Regions from separate parts of the Homo sapiens genome. Here all the other regions are linked to region 2. The links come from fine-mapping of genetic effects on gene expression. A gene starts in region 2. Each other region holds a variant in brackets. All regions are shown on one strand. Distances are between the middles of the regions.

Region 1 (5,038 bases), 20 kb after region 2:
AAAGATTTATTGAGGGCCTGTGGTGGCCTGACACTAGTCTAGGCATAAGGGACTAAATAAAGCATAAAATGGGCATCCATCCTTACCTCTCTGGAGCTTATATTCTAAAGACATAAAATAAATACATACATAAATATGTTAGCTGTTGCTAAGGACGGTGGAGAAAAACGAAGCATGGGAAGAAAGAGGAGTGCTGTAGGAGGAGGGGTTGTATTTTAAACACAGTGGTCAGAGAAGATTCACTGAGAGGGTGACCTTGGAGCAAAGACCTGAAGCAGGAGAGAGAATACACGGGGCAGAGATCTGGGAGAAGAGCATTCCAGGCAGAAGGAACAGCATGTGCAGAGGCCCTGATGAGGGGATGTGCAAGAAGGCAGGGTGGCTAGAGCAGAGTGAATGAGGGGGAGAGGTGATGAGGTCAAAGAGATAAGCGGGGGTCAGGGGAGGGATGCACAGAACTTTACATCAGCCGAAGAAAAGGCTTTAGCCTCTATTGAAAGGAAGGACCGTTGGAGGGGTTTTGAGTAGAGGAATGACCTGATCCAATTTGTGTTCTAAAAGGATCCCTTTGGCTGCTGGGCAGAGTTTGTAGGAGATAATGAGACCTGCATCATCCAGGAGAGAGATGGTGGCTTGGACCAGGGATGGAGCAGTGAAGATGCCGAAAGGTGTCAGATTCTGTGACTGTGTCGCCTCAGTTTCCTTATCTGTAAAATGCATACACTGTGCAGGGAATAAAAGCTGACAGGCTTTTCTGATAGACGTGAGAGTGTTGGCCTACCCGACTGGAATGATGGGATTGCCATTAACTGAAATGAGGGAAGCTGCAGAAAAACAGATTTTTAAGGCAAAATCAGAAATTCATATTTTGGATGTGTTAATTTTGAGATACTCTGTTAGACCAAAGTGGCGGTGTCCTGAAATCCTGTTGTTTGGTAGACAATGACCGGTTTAGGGTTTTTCTTTCCTTTTCTTTTTTTGCAAGTAGACTTAAGAAAGCATAAAATGAATCTGTAGTCAGGAACCTCTCAGATACAAACGAGTATAGTATTTCAGATTAAGATTTTGGACAGGGAGAAAGATGTAATATACATGAATAACATTGAGAATAAGAATATATTCAGGCGAATAAATAATTACTGCTATTTACGGAGTGCTGTCCCTATGCCAGGTCCTTGCTAGGCATTTCACACGTGTTATTGCTCATTGTGATTATACTCATGCACAACTGTAATTAGCCCCATTTGAGAGATAAGGAGAATGAGGCTTAGAGGAGTAAAGTGGCATTCCCACTGTCATAAAGATGGTGGGTGGTGGAGTTTGGAATTCAGAGTTCCAAATCCAGTCATATTGGATCTAAAATTCAGTTACATTTGATGTTCAAGCCGTGGTTTCTTTCTGTCGGGTTAGTCTGCCTGTCAGCAAAAGGGGAAAACTCGTTCTGAGATAGATAAAGGGTGGCCGGGTGCAGTGGCTCATGCCTGTAATCCCAGCACTTTGGGAGGCCAAGGCAGGTGGATCACAAGGTCAGGAGTTTGAGACCATCCTGGCCAATATGGTGAAACCCCGTCTCTACTAAAAATACAAAAATTAGCCAGGGGTGGTGGCAGGCACCTGTAGTCCCAGCTACTGGCTGAGGCAGGAGAATTGCTTGAACCCTGGAGGCGGAGGTTGCAGTGAGCCGAGATTGCGCCACTGCACTCTAGCCTGAGCGACAGAGCGAGACTCCATCTTAAAAAAAAAAAAAAAAAAAAAAAAGATAAAGGGCCTTTAAAATAGGACATAGTAGTTTGTAGAATCTCCCTTTTAAAACATTTTAGAATGCTTCACTTTGGCTAAATTAAGAGGTAGGGCAGCTTCTCCAGAGAAGGAAAACTTATTAGGAGAGGCATTTATTAATCACCCACCCTCTTCCAGCAAGTGTGAGCCACACTGGGCATTGTTGAGGCCCTGGATCTTATTGAAGGTGAAAGAATTCAGCATGGCATGGGAAGTACCACGGGGAATCAGGTGGACAGGGATCAGCTGCTGAGGACAGCAGGGCAGCTGCAGCTGGAGAGGGAGAAGGGAGCTGGGAGGAGAGATGAAGGAGCTGCTGTGAGATAGGCTCCTGGGCTAAAACAGGCACAGTTGGGTGCGCTGGGCTCCATGTCTCCCTGCTGAGCCCCTGGGAGCTGCAGGAAGATAGATGAACCTTGGCTTCCAACAGGAGCGGCATGCCTGGAACTGTTGGTGGGATTAGAATGAGCTGGCCCTGCTTCTATGGCTCCATTGTGGCCTTTGGCAAGTCTTCACTTTTCTATCTAGAAAATGTGGCAGTTGGGACTCGATTGTCATGAAATGCCAGGAGAGCAAGAGAGAGTGTGTGTGCACAAGTGACAGGGAGAGAATGCAAGTGCAAGAGACAGCGTGAGTGGTTTTATGTGGTTTCTTGTTTTGTATTACCAGGAACGAGGAAGCTCTCTGATCTCAGGCTGGG[T/G]GGGGGCTTTGTCTGTGGAAAGGGGCTGTCGTCGCAGGCAGAGCAGATGACATCTCCACATCCCTTTAGTCCTTTGGTCTGTGTGTTCCATGTGTTCTTCAGTCTGACATGAGCAAAGCACAGCACACACAGGGCAACTTTGGGGAGCTCTGAGGGCACCATCTTTCCTTGGGACCCACTTTGCCGACTCCCAGTGGACCATCATCTTGCCCTGCAGCCAACCCCATGCAAAAGTGTTCCTTTTAACATTCCTTTTAGGGAGATCTTTATTTCTCCCAAAGAACCAATTTTCTTCCTGCCCTCCCATAACCATGAGAACAATAAGACTGAGCATACTTTCCCTTTTGGCATCAGTGGCCAGGAAGCTTGGAATTGAATCTCAATGTCATTATTGCCACCATGTATTTGTGGTCAGCATGGATATTCCCTTCTTCCCTGGGCCTCTGTTTCAATGCATATTTTATTGCATGTCATTTATGAGCTGCCTTAAAATGGTCAGGACTTCTCCTGTCATACCCGTAGGCCTTCCTTCCAAGATTTCTTTACTTGAAAAGGTTCCCTTTGTTCTTTTTTTTTTCTTAATTTTTGCCCTGGTGAGGGCAAGGGTTGTGGTACAGAAGCTTCACTGATAGATTCAGGAGTCTAGCCCCAAGCCCAGGCTCTGTCCCTGACTTTCTGGGTAACCTCAGGCAACTAACATGCTTTTTCTGGGTTTCAGTTTCTTTCTCTATAGAATGATAGGTTGTGATGAGGTCTACTCCAGATCCTTTCCATTCTGATTCTGAGAGTGTGTTAGTCCCTGTTGGTACCTGGGGTAAATGCCAGGGGATTAGGCATTTACCTAATCTTACATCCAGGATCCAAAGAATCAAGGCAGAAATCTGGAAAAAATGAGAATTTTTAGGGATGGAAGTCTCACCATTTTCCTCATCCTGTGATGCTTTAGAGTTGGAAGCTTGGGAGAAGGGGGAAGGGAGAGAAGCCGGACTGAGGCTTGACAGCTCTATCAGTCAGGAAGCCCAGGGAAGCATATGCTGTGGCCAAGGTTGCTGAAGGGCCTCCATCTGCCAGGAGCCACTAGCCAGGCAGCCACCAAGCTGGGGCTGGCACCACTGCCCCTCCGTTCCTCACATTTCTCCATGGGTGTCTGCAGAGGGGCAGCCGTGGAGCAGCTGGGATGGTGGAAGCATGGGAACCAGTGTTCCCCCTACTACTCCCTACCCAGACGGGAGGCCTGCCAGACATTGCCCTGGAAAGCCAGCCCAGGTCACTTGGCCTAGCAGAGTTTGCCAGTCATTTCAGAGTCACTCATGCCTGGGCCTGCTGATGTCCGCTGAGGTGATAAAGCAAGAATTATTTCTGAAGAAGGGAAAAAGAGAGATCTCCTTCGACAGGTAATAGTGATAGCAAGAAATGTTCAGTCCTCTAATTTCCCAAGAACTACCCCCATCCCTCCATTCATTACCTTGGTTGGATCCCAAAGAGACAGCAGGGCCAGGAAGGTGGCGCCTTCCTGAGTGAATGCATGAGACAGCTGAGACGAACAGAGGTCAAAGACCCAAGGTCACCAAGATGGACGATGTGATATGGCTCAGAGGAGCTGAGGGTCTCTCAGTGGTGGGCTTGCACAGCAGCTGGGCTGCTGGGTGGGACGCAGCAGTTGTTGGAAGAGGAAAGAGCAGTGCTCCTCATGGAAAGGGCTTCTCCTTTGCCTGCGAGGCTGATTCTTAGAGGAACAGGGAAAGTCACTAGTTAGGGAGAAGGCACATGAGGAATTTCTTTTTCTTTTTTTCTTTTTTTTTTTGAGATGGAGTCTCCACTCTGTCGCCCAGGCTGGAGTGCAATGTCGTGATCTCGGCTGACTACAACCTCTGCCTCCCAGGCTCAAGATATTCTCCTGTCTCAGCATCCCGAGTAACTGAGATTACAGGCACCCACCACCTCGTCCAGCTAATTTTTCTATTTTTAATAGAGACAGGTTTTTGCCATGTTGGCCAGGCTGGTCTTGAAATCCTGACCTCAGGTGATCCGCCCACCTCGGCCTCCCAAAGTGCTGGGATTACAGGTGTGAGCCACCGTGTCTGGCCAAGAATTTCTTTTTAAACGACTCTCTGTAGTATGCTTACCTCTTATGTCTGTGATGCCCTGCTTTTATGGAAGTATGACCAGCCCAAAATGCAGGTATATACCTGCTCATCTCCATTGTGGTATCTTAGAGTCTCATGGAAAAGTAGGTTTTTTCTTTTATGCAGCAGAATGATAAGTGTCCCAGGTCTACTGTATTATGAGACCTTCATGATGCAGTAGAAATGCAGGTGCCCATGACCTGGAAATCCAGGGTCCAGCCCTTGGTGACTCTTGTAACCTCTGAGGCTTCAGGTTTCCCATAGATCAGATGGACTAGTCTCTACCTGGCCTCCCTCTATGGGGAATTTGTGTGAGGATTCAACGAAGTTGTGAATATGCAAGAGCTTTAGGGGCAGCCTCAGCTACCAGTCTCCTCCAGGCTGACCCAAAGTCTAGGGAAGCATCCTGGGCCCAGCTACCTGAAGTCAGGTA
Region 2 (5,038 bases):
AAGTCACTGTCTTGCTTTGGGGAAGTTCCTTGTGGAGATTTCTGGGAAATGTAGTCTTCTAAGTACCAAGCAAAAAAAAAAAAAAACCCAAAAAAACCCCCACACAAAACCCCACACACATACACACATGAGGATGGGACAGCCAGGCATGGTGGCTCAAGCCTGTAATCCCAGCACTTTGGGAGGCTGAGGATTGCTTAAGCCCAGGAGTTGGAGACCAGCCTGGGCGACATAGTAAAGCCCCATCTCTATTAATAAACAAAACAGCATGGGAACAGACAAAAAAATATTTTAATGACAATCTCAGAAATGTTCTCCTTCTAAACATGTAATAATTACATGGCTTCCTTTGGTTTCACTTTTAAGTGTAAAAATGTCACTTATATAATTTCAGTGAGCATTAGAGCAGATAAAACATTTTATCAATTAACTTGCTAATATAGCATTAGGTGTTTTGGACAGAAGACCTCAACATTTCACATGGCTTTTTCAACTAGTTTCCTATTCCTGCTAAATTGCTCTGCCATGTTTTTCTAGAAAACATAATATAATAATGGCTATCTGATAGGATATGGTTTAACGGAATACAGGAGAAAATAGAATCAATGTCCTCTCCAAAATTTATTAGCATTTGTTGCAAAAAAAGTAATGGATTTATTGCAGCTCAGAGATACAGGAAAAGATTTGACTGTGAAAAGCAACAGTAAACTTAAAATAATTATTTTTTCATGTACATTATCAATATTAACTGTTTCTCACCAGGCCAGTACTGCAGAGTCATGATGTAAATCAGTGAAGTCACTTTACAAATTCTTCTCTTGGAAAAGTCAGCTTGGGGCAGAGAGTAGAGGGTACCAAGTTCAGCACCGGCGAGAGTAAACAGACTTAAGGACTTAAGAGCCTTAAGAGACTTAAGACAAAAGGACTTCCAGGATGGCATCTGGCCTAGTGTTCCCATAGAAGACTGGGGCCTGGCACAATGTGTGCTTGCTTTCTCATTCACTTAGTCAATATTTATTGAGCTCCTACTATGTGTTAGGCACTGCTCTGGGCACTGGAAATACAGCAAGGGAAAAAAACAAAGTTCCTTCCCTCATGAAGTGTACATTCTAGTGGGAGTGATAAATGACACATAGTAAATATACACTATGTCAGCTGGTAATTAAGTGTAGCAAAACTAGGGGCAAAGGAGGTGGAGAGGAGGGAGTTAGTATTTTATGTAGAATGGTTAAGGAAGCCCTCTCTGAGACAGTAACATTTGAGCAGAGACCTGGAGGAAAGGAAGGATTGAACCATGTGGCTCTCTGGTGTGTTCTAGGCAAAGGGGACAGCAAATGCAAAGGCCCAGCAGTGAGGCCTCAGCAAGAAGGACAGCTTGATGGGAGAAAAGTGAGTGATGGGGAGAGCCACGCAAGATGAAGTCAGAGAGCTGGAGTAAGATGAGGGCATGTGGCGGAGAGCGATACAGAAAACCACTGGATGGTTTAGAGCAGAGTAATGACAGATCAGACAGGCCTGGTTCAGAAAGAAGGAGCCCATTCCCACTCCACCTACTTCCCACACATGAAGCAGATAAGAAACCAAGCCCAGAAAGTGAGTTAACTTATCTAAAGTTGTATGGCTAGAAATGGAAGGGCTAGGCAGAAAATCCAGTTTTTTGGACTTTTTGGTCTTCTTGTTTTCCCTGTGACAGATGGAAGACAGAGGGAAAAGAGCCACAATTAACATTTTAAGTTGTGATTGTTTATCTCTCCGAGATCTTTCCAATGATTCACCTTTTTACTACTTAAGAGGAAAACATTTCCATTTTCAGACACTTAAGATTCCTGCTATCATTGTTAGTAGCCCAAGTGCTTGTCATTCACATTAAATACCCCTGGTACTCAGACTTGGTTTGGGCAATGAAAAATGTTCCTAAAGGCTTTTAGATAAAAATTACTATTTCACTAGAGCCAACTATGTGCCAGGGAGTGAGACTGGTATCATCACCCCATGTTAGAGAAGAAAAAGCTGAGGCCCAGAGAGGTGAAGGGACTTGCACAGGGTCACACAGCCGACCAAGACGCTTTCCACCACGCCCAATCGATCGCCCAGCTCAAAATACCGGCTGGTGTGTAGGTGGGAGAGGCCGCCGCTCCCCGTGTGCTCGTTGTCTCTGTTCCCAGGCCCTCTAGAGCAAGATACTAACTATCTCTTTAAGAAGGAAAGTAAAGACGGGCCGCTTACGCAGCTGCCGGCGAGCCGCCGACTGGCTGGTCCCCTCCATCCACCTCACCCTCCCCGCCCCTCCCTCCCGGCAGCCCCAGCCCCGGCGAGCACCCAGCTAGCCGCCTCCTGCAGGGGCTCGGGAGAGCAATTCGGCGGCCCCTGCAGGGCAGCTGAAGCCATGGAAGCCTCCGCAGGTGATGACAAGGACCCCGGGGATCTCCGGGCCCACCGCCCAGCTGCACCCGCCGCAGTCCAGAGTGCCGAGTGCCAGGGGGTGGGGTGGGGGCCGCGGGCCGCGAGGAGGAGGGGACGGAGCACCCGGCAGGCAGCCTGCCCTCCAAGCCTTCTGGCTGCAGCGGCCCAGCTGTCAGCGGCCGGGGGCTCAGCTGCCTGGGTGTTCCCCGCCCGCGCTCACCCGCCCCGGTCTATCTCTTTTTCCTAACCCCGCAGGTCGCTGATCAGGGCCAGGCGGCTGCAGCAGCGACTGCAGAGGCGCTGCGCCAAGCCGGGCCGGAGTGGTGCGAGCCGGCGGGGCTGCGGAGGGCCAGTGGACTCAGGTGAGGAGGCCGCGGCGGAGCGGGGAGCTGGCCCTGCGCTGCACCGCGGCAGGTGGGGGCCGCTTGCAACCGCTCGCTGCGGTAGAATCCCTTGGAGGGCACCAGCCTAAGAGGGGTTAATCGTGACTCATTCTTACCCTCCCTTCATTCCCCTACATCCCTTTAAGCGCTTCCCTCCCTCCCCCTCCCTGAAATGTAAGAATTAGAGGGTGCTGATTGCAGCAGAGAAGATGCCCAAAGTGGGTGATTAGGAGGCTTTTAGGGAACCCACCCCCCAATTTTATTTGTCTTCCCCTTCTGGCATTTGGCAAACATTTAAGCTTCTCTTTTCCTTCTTGGAGGAGGAGCAGGGGTACCTGGGGGTGGGAGAAGGATGAGACCCCACCCCCACCCCAAGGTCAAGTGCCAATGACTGCTTCCATCCCATCTTTCCCTCTGAGAAGCATCAGGGCCCTGCAGTAGATCTGGGGAAAAAATGCCCATAAGTCCTAGAGTGGACGATCTGAGCCTCCGTCTCCCCGGAGCTTCCCTGGGATGTGAAGCCTTCCACTCCCCAGCCGGGATCTGGGCTGTTTGCAACACCTACTAGCCTGGGGAGCCCCATATTCCCTTCCCCAACCCTGCAGACTGAAAGAGAGGCCGGTCACATGCTGCCCGTTTCCTCTGCCTTCTCTGCCCATCTGGTGGTGTCGGGATGGGCTGGAGGAGCTTCTTAGAAAAAGGTGATCTCTGCAGGCAGAGTCGTGTAAGGAAAGTGCCAGAGATTGGGGTTCTAGGCCCTTAACTTGCTAGTTGGCCACAAGTAGCCATTTTAAAATTCTCTAGGCGTGGGTGTCTGTCTGCTCATCTGTTAGATGCAGGAATTGGATTAAATGATGTGTATAATTTTAGTATATCACTCAAGCAGCTTTTACATGTCAGGGGGACCCCTCTGCTAAGGCAATTTAAATTTAGTTTCATGAAATAATTGGGGTTTCCTCAGTTGATCTCTTTCAACTCTGACTTCTTAAGTGAAACATTGACCTTGTGGGCCTCAAGGAGCTGGAGGTGCCAGACAGTCCTATGTTGACATCCCTGAGCTGCCAAGTGACTTCCCTTCCCCCAGCCTCAGTTTCTCCATCTGTAAATCTAGGGGTACAGCCCGCAGAGGGCTGATGTGAAAATTAAATGAGATGTATGTGGAAGCACCTAAAATAGTGCCTGTGCCTGGCACATAGTAGGTTCTCAGGAACTCAGGACTTGGGAGATAGGCTGGGGGAAGAGAGGAAGAGGTGACTGCTTTTAGTCCTGTTCTCCTCCCCATCCCCTGCCTGTCTCTTCCACACCCCTGCAGATGGTGTCCCTGCCAGGGGTAATGAATGCTGAAGTGTATTGGGTCACCAGGCTGAGGGCCTAGGCAGGCAGCAACATTTCCACTGCAAAGGTTGTGACATCATTCTAGCAAATGATGGTCCCAAGGAGGACTGTAGCCCAGCATTGGGTTTGGAAAATCCTGGCATCCAAGGGCGGAGTCTCTGAGGGAACAGAAGCAGCAGATTCTTGTGTGCTGGCAGCAGGGCAGGGATCAGGTCTTCCGGATCTCACATGAATCCCACTGTGGCTCTCTTGCCCTCCCTGGAGTGTCTCCCTAGAGTCACCCTGAGGCCAGGCAGTCAAGTTTTTGGTGCTTGTATTTTCGATTCTTTATCTTCCTTCCTGCTGTCATTTTCAGCCTAGCACTCAAGCCTTTCTCGCTCCTCTTTATTCCAGATACCTCCTGCCTTTTGACAGCATGATAAAGGAGGTTCTCCATAGGGTTGGGTGGGGAATTTTGCTGCTGCACCATTTGGGCCAAAAGAAGTTGTCATGTCCCCCCACCCCCACCCTAAATTCCTATTTGGCAGAGGCCCTATCATTTTCCTTTCTCTATCTCCAGCCTCTGGCCCATGAGTAGGCCCAAAGTAGGTGCTCCGTAAGTGTTGAATGAAACAAACTTGAGGAAATTATGTCCCTAAGCCAACTAGGTTAGGGAGAAACTGTAGGAATGTGTTGATTATGTAGGTGAAAGCCCTTTTTAGTGTAGGACATCGTCCAGGTTGTTGGTTGTCATTATTATTGCTATTACAGCTACTGTTATTATTGCTATTGTTGGTGATTAACAGATGCTTCGCCTACTCCTCTAGGGCTCCTGACTAGACCAAAAGGGGCCAGATGTGCCTGGGAGGGTGGTGATGTTGGCAAAAAGGGATCCAGATGGTGCCAGCTGGTGTGAGATGACTGTGAAGGGAGGAGGA
Region 3 (5,038 bases), 34 kb after region 2:
GCATAGGCTCTGGATTTGGTCTCTTCCTGTCTTGAGCCTCCATTTCCTTTCTTTAAAGTGGAGCTAATAACTCGGAAGCTTCGGTGACTTGATATCTACACACCGCCTGTGCATCCTAGTTGGCCAATAACTGATACCTCCTGTTGTTAGAGCTTTGATCTGACTTAAGGCCAGGAGATGCCCAGCCTGTGGCTCCCATGGCTGGAGCACCTCCTGGGAGGACTCAGTGGAGAGGATGTCATTTGTGTGAAGCGATGTCCAGAGCCACTGAAACAGCAGCTGTTAGATTTCTATCGTGACACACATGATGGGTAACACCCATGTGCAGGACTCATGCCCCAGCATCCTGGCTGTAACACCACCCCAGAGACTGGGGGACATAGGAGTAAAGCATTAATTTACATTTTGAAAACTATATAATTGGCAACTTTAATCTTTTCTATTAGTAACAGATTTTGTAACACACCTCGTAACTGCAGCCCATGGAGGTGATCCCAACCCCAGGGCTGAGAATTGCTCCCAGCAAAGGGTCTTCTTCCCCACAACAAGGGTTGCTGCCCCTGGGTGAGCAGTGGGGCCACAGTTAGGTCCCCTCTGCAAATAGCCAGGCTTTCCAAGGCAGGAACAGCTGAGAAACATGCGTCACAGCGTATTTTTTTTCTAATTTGTGTGTGTGTGTGTGTGTGTGTGTGTGTGTGTGTGTGTGTATACATATTTTTTTTTTTACAAAGAGCTAGTGACTAAAAATGTACACGTGTTAAATTTTATATCGGGGAAAATATTCATGAAAGCAAAATGAAAAGAATGTAAAATAGTTACTTCCTCTCTAATCCTCAATCCTTACTAGTTTAGCTAACCTTGGGTCCCCCACTCCTACCACCCCTTGCCAAGGGGTGACTCCTCCGCCCCTTGCCAAGCAGAGAGGAGACCTGCGTGACTTGGCTTGAGTTGACCTAGGGGCCATGACGTGAGTACATAGAAGAAAACCACTTCTCATTCCACTTCTATCACCACTTTCTCTTTGACAGTTTACGACTTACAAGTACTTTTTCCTCGGTAAACACCATACAGCTTCCATGGAACTTTTAAAATTGCCTCCAGCTCGGCTGCTTCAGCAAATGGGCCTCACCAGGGCCTGCCTTTTCCAGGCTCATAAAGGGACATTGCCCCTCCCTAGACCTGCCAGTCACTCTCCCCTCAAGGAGCAGAGTTGGATGGCAACAAGGCCTGAGTCTCTAGTCGCGAGATACATGCCCAGGTTTTAAGCCAAGATCCAAGGTTTCTGTTTGAGCAAAACAACCAGCAGCCAGGACACTGAGAATAGAGCTGGCTGGGCCATAGTCTGTTGTGGAATTGGGGCATTCTCCTTCCCCGTGAAAGCCTGGCCCTCCCTCCTCCACTGGCACCTGACTGCCCTCTGGGTGGAAATTCCTTCTCCTTTGCCCTGGTAGGGCACCATGTCAGTGCCGCCCTGTGCTGGGAGCAGTGCACTTCCAGCCTGCTGCCACCCCAGAGTACTGCAGTGGACAGGTCCCTGCCCAGAGCCGGCAGGTGTTCACGTGTGTGCTCCCATGTGCCCCCGGAGGTGAAAGTGTGAACATGTGCCTGGGCTGGTGCCCTAGTATGTGTGAGTACCTGCGAGGCACAAGTGTGTCTCCATGTATGTGGGCATGCAGGTGTGAATGGACTGGGAATTGACATCCCAGGAAGTGTGCGTGCATGTAGTGCTCACCCACGTGTACGCAGTGGGGGTGAGGAGTGAGAGTGCCAGGGCGTATATGGAGACAGCTGTGCCTGCGCGTGTCTGCCCTCCCTGTCCCCAGGCTGTGAGGGGTCTCAGCTCTAGAGAGGAGAGCTTCTGCCTCCACCTGGGAGATGTATCCTGCTGTGTGGGGGT[G/A]AGTCCTTGTCTGCCATGCAGACCCAGCATCTGCCACTTACACCTCAGTTTCCAGCCTTCAAACTCATTCTCCAGGTTGGAAGACGAGGTACCTGGGTTCTGGGGCACACTACCGGGATTGTCTGAGGGGCTCGGGGCAAGAGCTAACCTCTCTGAGGCCAGCGGCCCCTCTAAAAGATGAAGACAGTCCCTACTTCAGGGCTGCTATAAGGATTGATGGCGTTGGTCAAGTGCTTGGCCTGGTTCCAGGTTTACACATATGCTCTGGGATATATCTCCCCACCCAGCCCTAACTAGAGGAGCCCTGAAGCCCGCTTCCTGACATGATGGTCTTCACTTAGAGGAACTCTACTAAAACCCACCTTCCAGAAGGCTGGGGGTTCTCCTGCCTTGTGTGGGAGGCCTGGCTTGGAGCATCTGGTGGCCAGGGATGGTGAGGCTGGTGTCCCCTTGCTCCCCAGAGGTAAAGCACCTGTGCCTTGCCTGACCTCTTCCTCCCTCCCTGATGATGGGCGTCCCCTTGCAGGCGCTCCATGAAATACACGCTGTGCAGTGACAACCATGGCATCAAGCCCCCGACCCCGGAGCAGTACCTGACCCCCCTGCAGCAGAAGGAGGTGTGCATCCGGCACCTGAAAGCCCGGCTGAAGGACACACAGGACCGGCTCCAGGACCGGTGAGCGGGTGGCCACGAGCAGCCCTGGGGGTACCCCACCAGCTCCACACTCAGGGAAACCAGGGCTCTGGGGTGCCTCTTGGAGGGAGGAGTGGCTGGGGGTCTCCCAGCATCCGTCTGCTCTCTCCTTCCCAGCAAAGCCTCATTTGAGCCCACTTGCAGACCCTCATCCCCAGCAGCTACTCACCTTGACTGCTCCACGAGGCTGTTGGGGGCCAGGCGGGAGCAGTTTCCCATGAGGGCCTGTCCTGTGGGGCCTCCTGCCTGTGCTGTCCTTTCCCAGCTTCAGCCTGGCAGCTCCTTTGGCTGCTTCTTTTCCTCTGGCTCCCATCTTCCAGGAGTTGGAGCACAGGGCTTCTTTCTGACTTACTTGCCTCTTTTGGGGGAGAAACAACTCTTTATCCTTCCTCGCTTCCTCCTGAGTGAGTCACCAGAGGGCTTGTGGCCAACCTCGACTTCAGGCCCCAGAAGCCATCTACTTCCTGCTGTGGAGGATGATGATGAGAAGCCTTTTGCTGAGCTCCTCCCCAGCCCAGGTGTCTCCCAGGAGCCCCCGCAGGCCGTCTGAGCTCATTCTCAAGTGCTTAATCCCAACCCTCCCAGCTTCTACCCTCCAAGCCCAGTGGCTTCATCTTTGTGATCTACACTTCAGGGCGTCGATCTCCCATTGTCTTAACTATCCTTCTCGGGACTGTGTCTATGCAAACATGCAGCCTATTGTGAGCTGGCCAAGGTGCTGTGTGGGGCTGGAGCTCAGAGCAGGCACGATGATCGCTCCTTTTTTCTTTTCTTTCTTTTTTTTTTTTAATACAGCAGCTTTATTGCAATGTAACTTACATACCATATAATTCACCTATCAAAAGTGTACAATTAGATGATTGTTAGTTTAGTCACAGAATTTTGCAACCATTACCACTATCTAATTTCATAAATATTTCTATCACCTCAAAATAAACCCCATTCCCATTAGCAATCACCGCCAATTTCTAATTTCATCAATATTTCTATCACCTCAAAATAAACCCCATTCCCATTAGCAATCACCGCCAATTTCTAATTTCATCAATATTTCTATCACCTCAAAATAAACCCCATTCCCATTAGCAATCACCGCCAATTTCTAATTTCATCAATATTTCTATCACCTCAAAATAAACCCCATTCCCATTAGCAATCACCGCCAATTTCTAATTTCATCAATATTTCTATCACCTCAAAATAAACCCCATTCCCATTAGCAATCACCGCCAATTTCTAATTTCATCAATATTTCTATCACCTCAAAATAAACCCCATTCCCATTAGCAATCACCGCCAATTTCTAATTTCATCAATATTTCTATCACCTCAAAATAAACCCCATTCCCATTAGCAATCACCGCCAATTTCTAATTTCATCAATATTTCTATCACCTCAAAATAAACCCCATTCCCATTAGCAATCACCGCCAGTTTCTAATTTCATCAATATTTCTATCACCTCAAAATAAACCCCATTCCCATTAGCAATCACCGCCAGTTTCTAATTTCATCAATATTTCTATCACCTCAAAATAAACCCCATTCCCATTAGCAATCACCGCCAATTTCTAATTTCATCAATATTTCTATCACCTCAAAATAAACCCCATTCCCATTAGCAATCACCGCCAGTTTCTAATTTCATCAATATTTCTATCACCTCAAAATAAACCCCATTCCCATTAGCAATCACCGCCAATTTCTAATTTCATCAATATTTCTATCACCTCAAAATAAACCCCATTCCCATTAGCAATCACCGCCAATTTCTAATTTCATCAATATTTCTATCACCTCAAAATAAACCCCATTCCCATTAGCAATCACCGCCAATTTCTAATTTCATCAATATTTCTATCACCTCAAAATAAACCCCATTCCCATTAGCAATCACCGCCAGTTTCTCTCCAACCACCATAGTCCCTGGCAACCACTGATTTTTCTGTCTCTATGGATTTGTCTATTCTGGACATTTCATATAAATGGGATCACGCTGTATGCATGACCACATCGTTCTTGACCACAGCTCTGCCAAGCAGCCAATCCGGTTTGGATTTGTTGTGGTTTTAAACTACAGGCGGTTACGGGTAGCATTCAGCGAGCTTCATTGTCGGCAGAGGGAGGATTTCTATTTTTATTTTCCCTCATCTTCCCAATGATGCCCAGGATCTGCGTGGCCTTTTGCACTAATGCCTCAGGGAGCAGATGGCCCATCTCCCAGCTTCATTTCTAGGGCCAGCCCCATGGCTTAGAGCAGACCATCTGCCCTGTGTGGTTTGGGCAGGATGCCCTGGTGTAGGTGTGCTAACACCTTGACTCCCTGGTCACTGTCTGCCTGTTACTCCCACAGGAACCCATTGCAGGTCTTTACATGAAATACTGTCACTCTCCCCACACTCTCTCCATATGGAGTTTCATGCCTGTGCTTCCTGCAGTGGCCCACC
Region 4 (4,630 bases), 26 kb after region 2:
TGCAGTGAGCTGAGATCGTGCCACTGCACTCTAGCCTGGGCGACACAGTGAGACTCTGTCTCAAAAAAAAAAAAATTAAGTTTTTAAAATGTACAATTCAGGGATTTTAGGATACTCACAAAATTATATAACCATCACCACTAGCTACTTCTAAAACGTTTTTTATCTTCCCAAAAAAGAAACTCCATTCCCATTACCAGTCATTCCCTGTTCCTTCTTCCCTTCCAGTGTGTTTTCTGTCTGTGTGCATTTGCCTGTGCTGGATATTTCATATAAATGGAATCATGCAATATGCGGCCTTTCGTATCTGGCTTCTTTCATTTAGCATAATGTTGTCAAGGTTCATCTGTGTTGTAGCATGGATCAGTAATACTTCATTCCTTTTATAGCTAAATATTCCATTGCATAGACGCATCACATTTTGTTTATCCATTCTTCTATTGGTGGACATTTGGGTTATTTCCACCTCTTAGCTATTAAGAATAGTGCTACTGTGAAGTACACTTCTTATACAAGTTTTTGTTTGAGCATCTATTTTCCATTCTTTGGGGTATATACCTAGCAGTGGAATTGCTGGTTCTTATGGCAATTCTATGTTTAACTTTTCGAGGAACCACCAAACTGTTTTCCATAGCAGCAGCGTCATTTTACATCCCCACCAGCAATACATGAGAGTTCCAACTTCTCCACATCCTTGACAACGCTTGTTATTGTCCATCTTTTTTATGCTAGCCATCCTAGTGAATGTGAAACAATATCTCATTGTGGAAAATAAGTATTCCATAGATTTTTAACCTGAAAAATCCTTTTTAAAAAGTAGTCTTACTTCACACCTTCCATATGTAAAACACATACGAGAGGAGCCTCTTCAGGTGAAATGGGGGAGGAGGCCCAAGCCACCCCTCCCAGTAGGTGCAGAGGCAAGTCCTCTTGGGTGGTTTGAAGACCTAGGCTTGATGCCCTTCAGCTCTGGAATCTGAGTCTAATCACTGGAGACACATCCTGTGTAGCAGCTGCCTCAGCCCTCAACCTATGCTGGTTGCCTGGGGAAGCTTCTCACAGCATTTGGCCAAGTTGTGGGTCTGCCTTGCCGCTGTGTTGGGGTTGCCACAACAGTGAGAAGAAGTCGGATGGCGCCTCATGTGTGGTCCCAGCTTTGAGGGTGGCTTGTGTGGGAAACAGGAAGCAAGCTGGAGAAATGCCAGCAAGTCCTGGAAGGAAGATCCTAGGTTTTGTTGACAAAGGAGGAGCAGAGGCACATAGTGGCTGATGAGGCCATAGCCAGTGCAGGGTTTACTGAACTCCTCAGCTGTGAATAGCCCTGGTAGTGCTAATCTTCTGAGATCTAGAGTGTGGCTGCTGGAACACTCCCAGGCCTGTCTTCTATTCCCACCTCTCTGCATTAGCATTCTAGGAGCACCAGGCACTCTGCTGTCTGATGGGTGGAATGTTCTGCGTTCTAGTGTTACCTTGGCAAAGAGAGGATCCCTCCCAAGTTCTGCTCTGTTGATTGCAATGCTCTGCTTTCCACAGCTGTCAGTGGTTTGAGTCATCAGACACAGATTGTTCTGTTCCCTCGGATTTTAGGATAGCTTTCTTCTTGTATCAATGGCTAATTCTTTGAAAGAAGATAAATTATAGTACATACAGGGACTTTTGCTTAGCTGGAATATTAGATTAACCCAAGCACCTGGTTTTTCCCCCATGACTGTTGATTGGGGAAAATGCTATCATGTCTCTTTGAAGAATGGAGCTTCCTAATTTTACATATGTGGAAACTGAGACCCGAAAGTCCTAGTAATGAAGGAGAAAGAAGCATCAATTAGAAGCCCATAATTTCATTGACAGCTCTAGAATTAGAGAATGTTAGATCCAGAGCACCTTAGAGACCATCTAATCTGACTCTTTGGTCTATTCAATGTGCTTGTTTAAACCATTGTATTACCAACAGTTGTGTGTTGATTGTGTTTGTTTTTATGAAGTTTCCCAGGGGATGGTGTTCCCTGAGTTTTAGTCTAAGGCATAGCATCCTAAGTGGTCAAGACAGTAAGTGATAGGAGAAGTCACTGGTGGAAAGGCTGTGGGTGGGACCTAAAGAAAGAGTGCAATGTATGCCTGAGGACAGGCAGGGAAGATGCTGCAGATGGGACAAACAGCCCATGTAGAGATGCAGATTTGGGAGTGACTAGCCGAGGTCTCCTGGATGTATCAGAGAGCCAGTTGGAAAGGTTGTAGATGAGAGGGCCTTAAGCACCCACATCAAGAGCTTTGCTCTGATTTTTACCTAATCTGGGACTTCCAAGGAATTTTGAACAGGGTCCAGGCCCTTTTCTCCATTGTTCCTGCCATGACCCTGGCCCAGGCCCTCCTAATTTCTCCCCTGGTTGGTAACCTCCTAACTGGTATCTGGTATCCCTCCCTCTCCACACAGGCTCCTTATCAGGAACTTTCTAAAATGCAAATATGATTGTGCCCCTTTCCTATAAAGCACTTGCATGGCTTCCTGTTGCCCACAGGACAAGATCCTGGCTTAAGTGGCTCTGTGTGGCCTGCCCCCCTCCTTCTGCAGCCTCACTCCCACTGTACTTCTGCCCTCAACAGGCTCCCTAGTTTCTGAGCAGCCAGCTGTCACTCACTGCCTGTGTCCAGACTTCTCCTTCCCTCCCATTTTCTGCTGCCACCTGGTGAACTCTTATTCATCCCTCAAGACCCAGTGCAAATTTCTTGTGTAGAGAAGCGTTCCTGGATCCTCCTGAAGACACTATTATGGCTTGAATGTGTTTCTGTTTTGAAGCTCACTTCATGTTACTTCCAAAATACTGGCTGCCCCCATGTTTTAGTGTTTATTGTGTGATAGGCACTGACCTAAGCCCCATACTCACATTATTTTATGTTATTCTCACAGTAACCATATGAG[G/A]TGCATTCATTAGAGCCCCAGTTATTACAGATATGGGCAGTGAGGCTCAGAGAAGTGGGTGACTTGCCCAAGGCATGCAGCTGAAGGGTGCCAGAGCTGGCATTTGAGCCCAGATCAGTTCATATTGACTTCTGCAGTCATTAGTCTCATGCTCCCTGGACCCCCATTGTCGGGGGGGTTAGGAAGTGTTGAGCATTTGAGGGAGCAGTCAAAGGAGTGGATGCAGCAGGGTTGCTATGGTGTGGACAAGATGGGGAAGTGGAGGGAAGTTCAGTGAGGGCAGGGGCTGGGTTTACTCTGGGGTTAAAGTGATGAGAGACTATCAGCCCAGCTTCCCACAGTTAAGGGTTTTCTTTCTACCTTCCTTTCCAAGTGGCAGCCTCTGGCCACCTGGGGAGAGGCCTGCGGGACTCCAGGCTAAGCAGGTGGCATGGTGACAAACACCATGGCAACCTGCCTCCTTGCTAGGGCCTAGAAGGGAGGGAGGACCTGAGAGAGCACAGGATGCACACTGAGTTTTCTGAGTAGGATCCTGAGAGGTGGCTCCCTTTGGGCCTGGGTGGCTTCTGCCCTCCCATGAGGGACCCTGCCTGCAAGGTCCCATCCCAGCAGGGGAAATGCGTCTTCCACCTTTGTCCCTAATGAATACCTGGCTCTGGGTGCCCAGGAGACTGTTAGCTATACGCAGGTACAAGTGCCACCCCCTTCCCTCCCCCAGGCCAGGGAGGAAGGAAGAGGGAACTCAAGAGGAGGCAGGTGTGGGGTAGCCAAGCAAGATAGTGGCAGGGACAGCTGGGACAAGGCCCTCATTGTAGCAAGGCCACACGCAGCTCCAAGACAAACCAGGCATTTTGCCTGCCTCCCAGGACTGGGCCTAGCACTCTGCCTGGACTTTCCTGGCTCCTTAGAACACTCACTCACACTGGCTTGGAAGAGCCCATCCTCAGATCTGAGTCCTGCCTCTGCTGGAAAGTCCTCCTGAAGGCTCAGCCTCCTTTTTGCATCCTCCCAAAAGCCAGAAGGGCAGGGATGATGGTGGGAAAGTTGTTGGTGAAGCCAGGCCGACCTGGGCCAGAAGCCAGAGCATGTCACACCTGCAGCTGTGTGACCTTGGGCCCAAATGCAGTAACAAAGCCGGCCTTGAAGGATTGCTGCTTCAAGTAATGGGCCAAGGCAGACGAGAGCACTCAGCATGGCCACCTTACCACTGAAGGATTCAGGCAATGGCAGGTGATCCTTGGAGCCCTTGCCCATGTGCCCCTCTGCACCCTAAGCTGTTCCTGGTCAAGATCCTCCTGTGCCCAGGAGGCAGTGAGCCATTTATGGCCATCCTCACAAGCATGGAGGAGCACTGATGTCCTCTTACCCCCAAATCGCCCCTCCTCCATGGTTCCTGCTCTAGGGGCCAGCCCTACAGTTCCAGGAGGCCCTGCCTGGGTGACTGGGGCATAATGAGTGGGAAGCATTGCCAAGCTGGGGCAAGAAGCTCAGGTGACAGGTGTGGTGTCGGCAGGTCCTGCAGCCCAGCACCCGACACCTCCAGGCAGACAATGCTGGCTGTGTCCAGACCCTCCAGGGGAACAGGCTGTGTTCTATGTCCCCGCCAGGAAACAGGCCATCTGAGTAGTGCCTTTGTCCACTCAGGAGGCAGCCCCGCCGCTGGCTGGGATGACCAGGCTCCGGGGAGGCCCTGACATGGGAAGGGGGTGGTCC

Evidence for each region.
Region 1: its variant is fine-mapped to the expression of SNPH in blood mononuclear cells (TOPMed, PIP above 0.99). The same link has a PIP of 0.9 or more in T cells.
Region 3: its variant is fine-mapped to the expression of SNPH in whole blood (TOPMed, PIP above 0.99). The same link has a PIP of 0.9 or more in aorta, lung, sigmoid colon and visceral fat.
Region 4: its variant is fine-mapped to the expression of SNPH in whole blood (INTERVAL, PIP above 0.99).

The regions. Positions count from the first base shown.
Region 1 is chr20:1,284,356-1,289,393 of GRCh38, forward strand. All of the region lies in intron 2 of SNPH (syntaphilin), which reads left to right. Among named protein-coding and RNA genes, the nearest start is that of SNPH, 21 kb to the left of the region's middle. The variant T/G (reference allele first, on the strand shown) is at 2,480.
Region 2 is chr20:1,263,996-1,269,033 of GRCh38, forward strand. It overlaps SNPH (syntaphilin), which reads left to right and starts at 2,299. Exons shown (of 7, transcript NM_001318234.2): 1 at 2,299-2,402; 2 at 2,659-2,765. RefSeq lists an enhancer at 1,985-2,134 and silencers at 2,535-2,614, 2,715-2,794.
Region 3 is chr20:1,298,139-1,303,176 of GRCh38, forward strand. SNPH (syntaphilin) reads left to right here. Exons shown (of 7, transcript NM_001318234.2): 6 at 2,424-2,573. Among named protein-coding and RNA genes, the nearest start is that of SDCBP2-AS1, 25 kb to the right of the region's middle. The variant G/A (reference allele first, on the strand shown) is at 1,898.
Region 4 is chr20:1,290,150-1,294,779 of GRCh38, forward strand. All of the region lies in intron 2 of SNPH (syntaphilin), which reads left to right. Among named protein-coding and RNA genes, the nearest start is that of SNPH, 26 kb to the left of the region's middle. The variant G/A (reference allele first, on the strand shown) is at 2,918.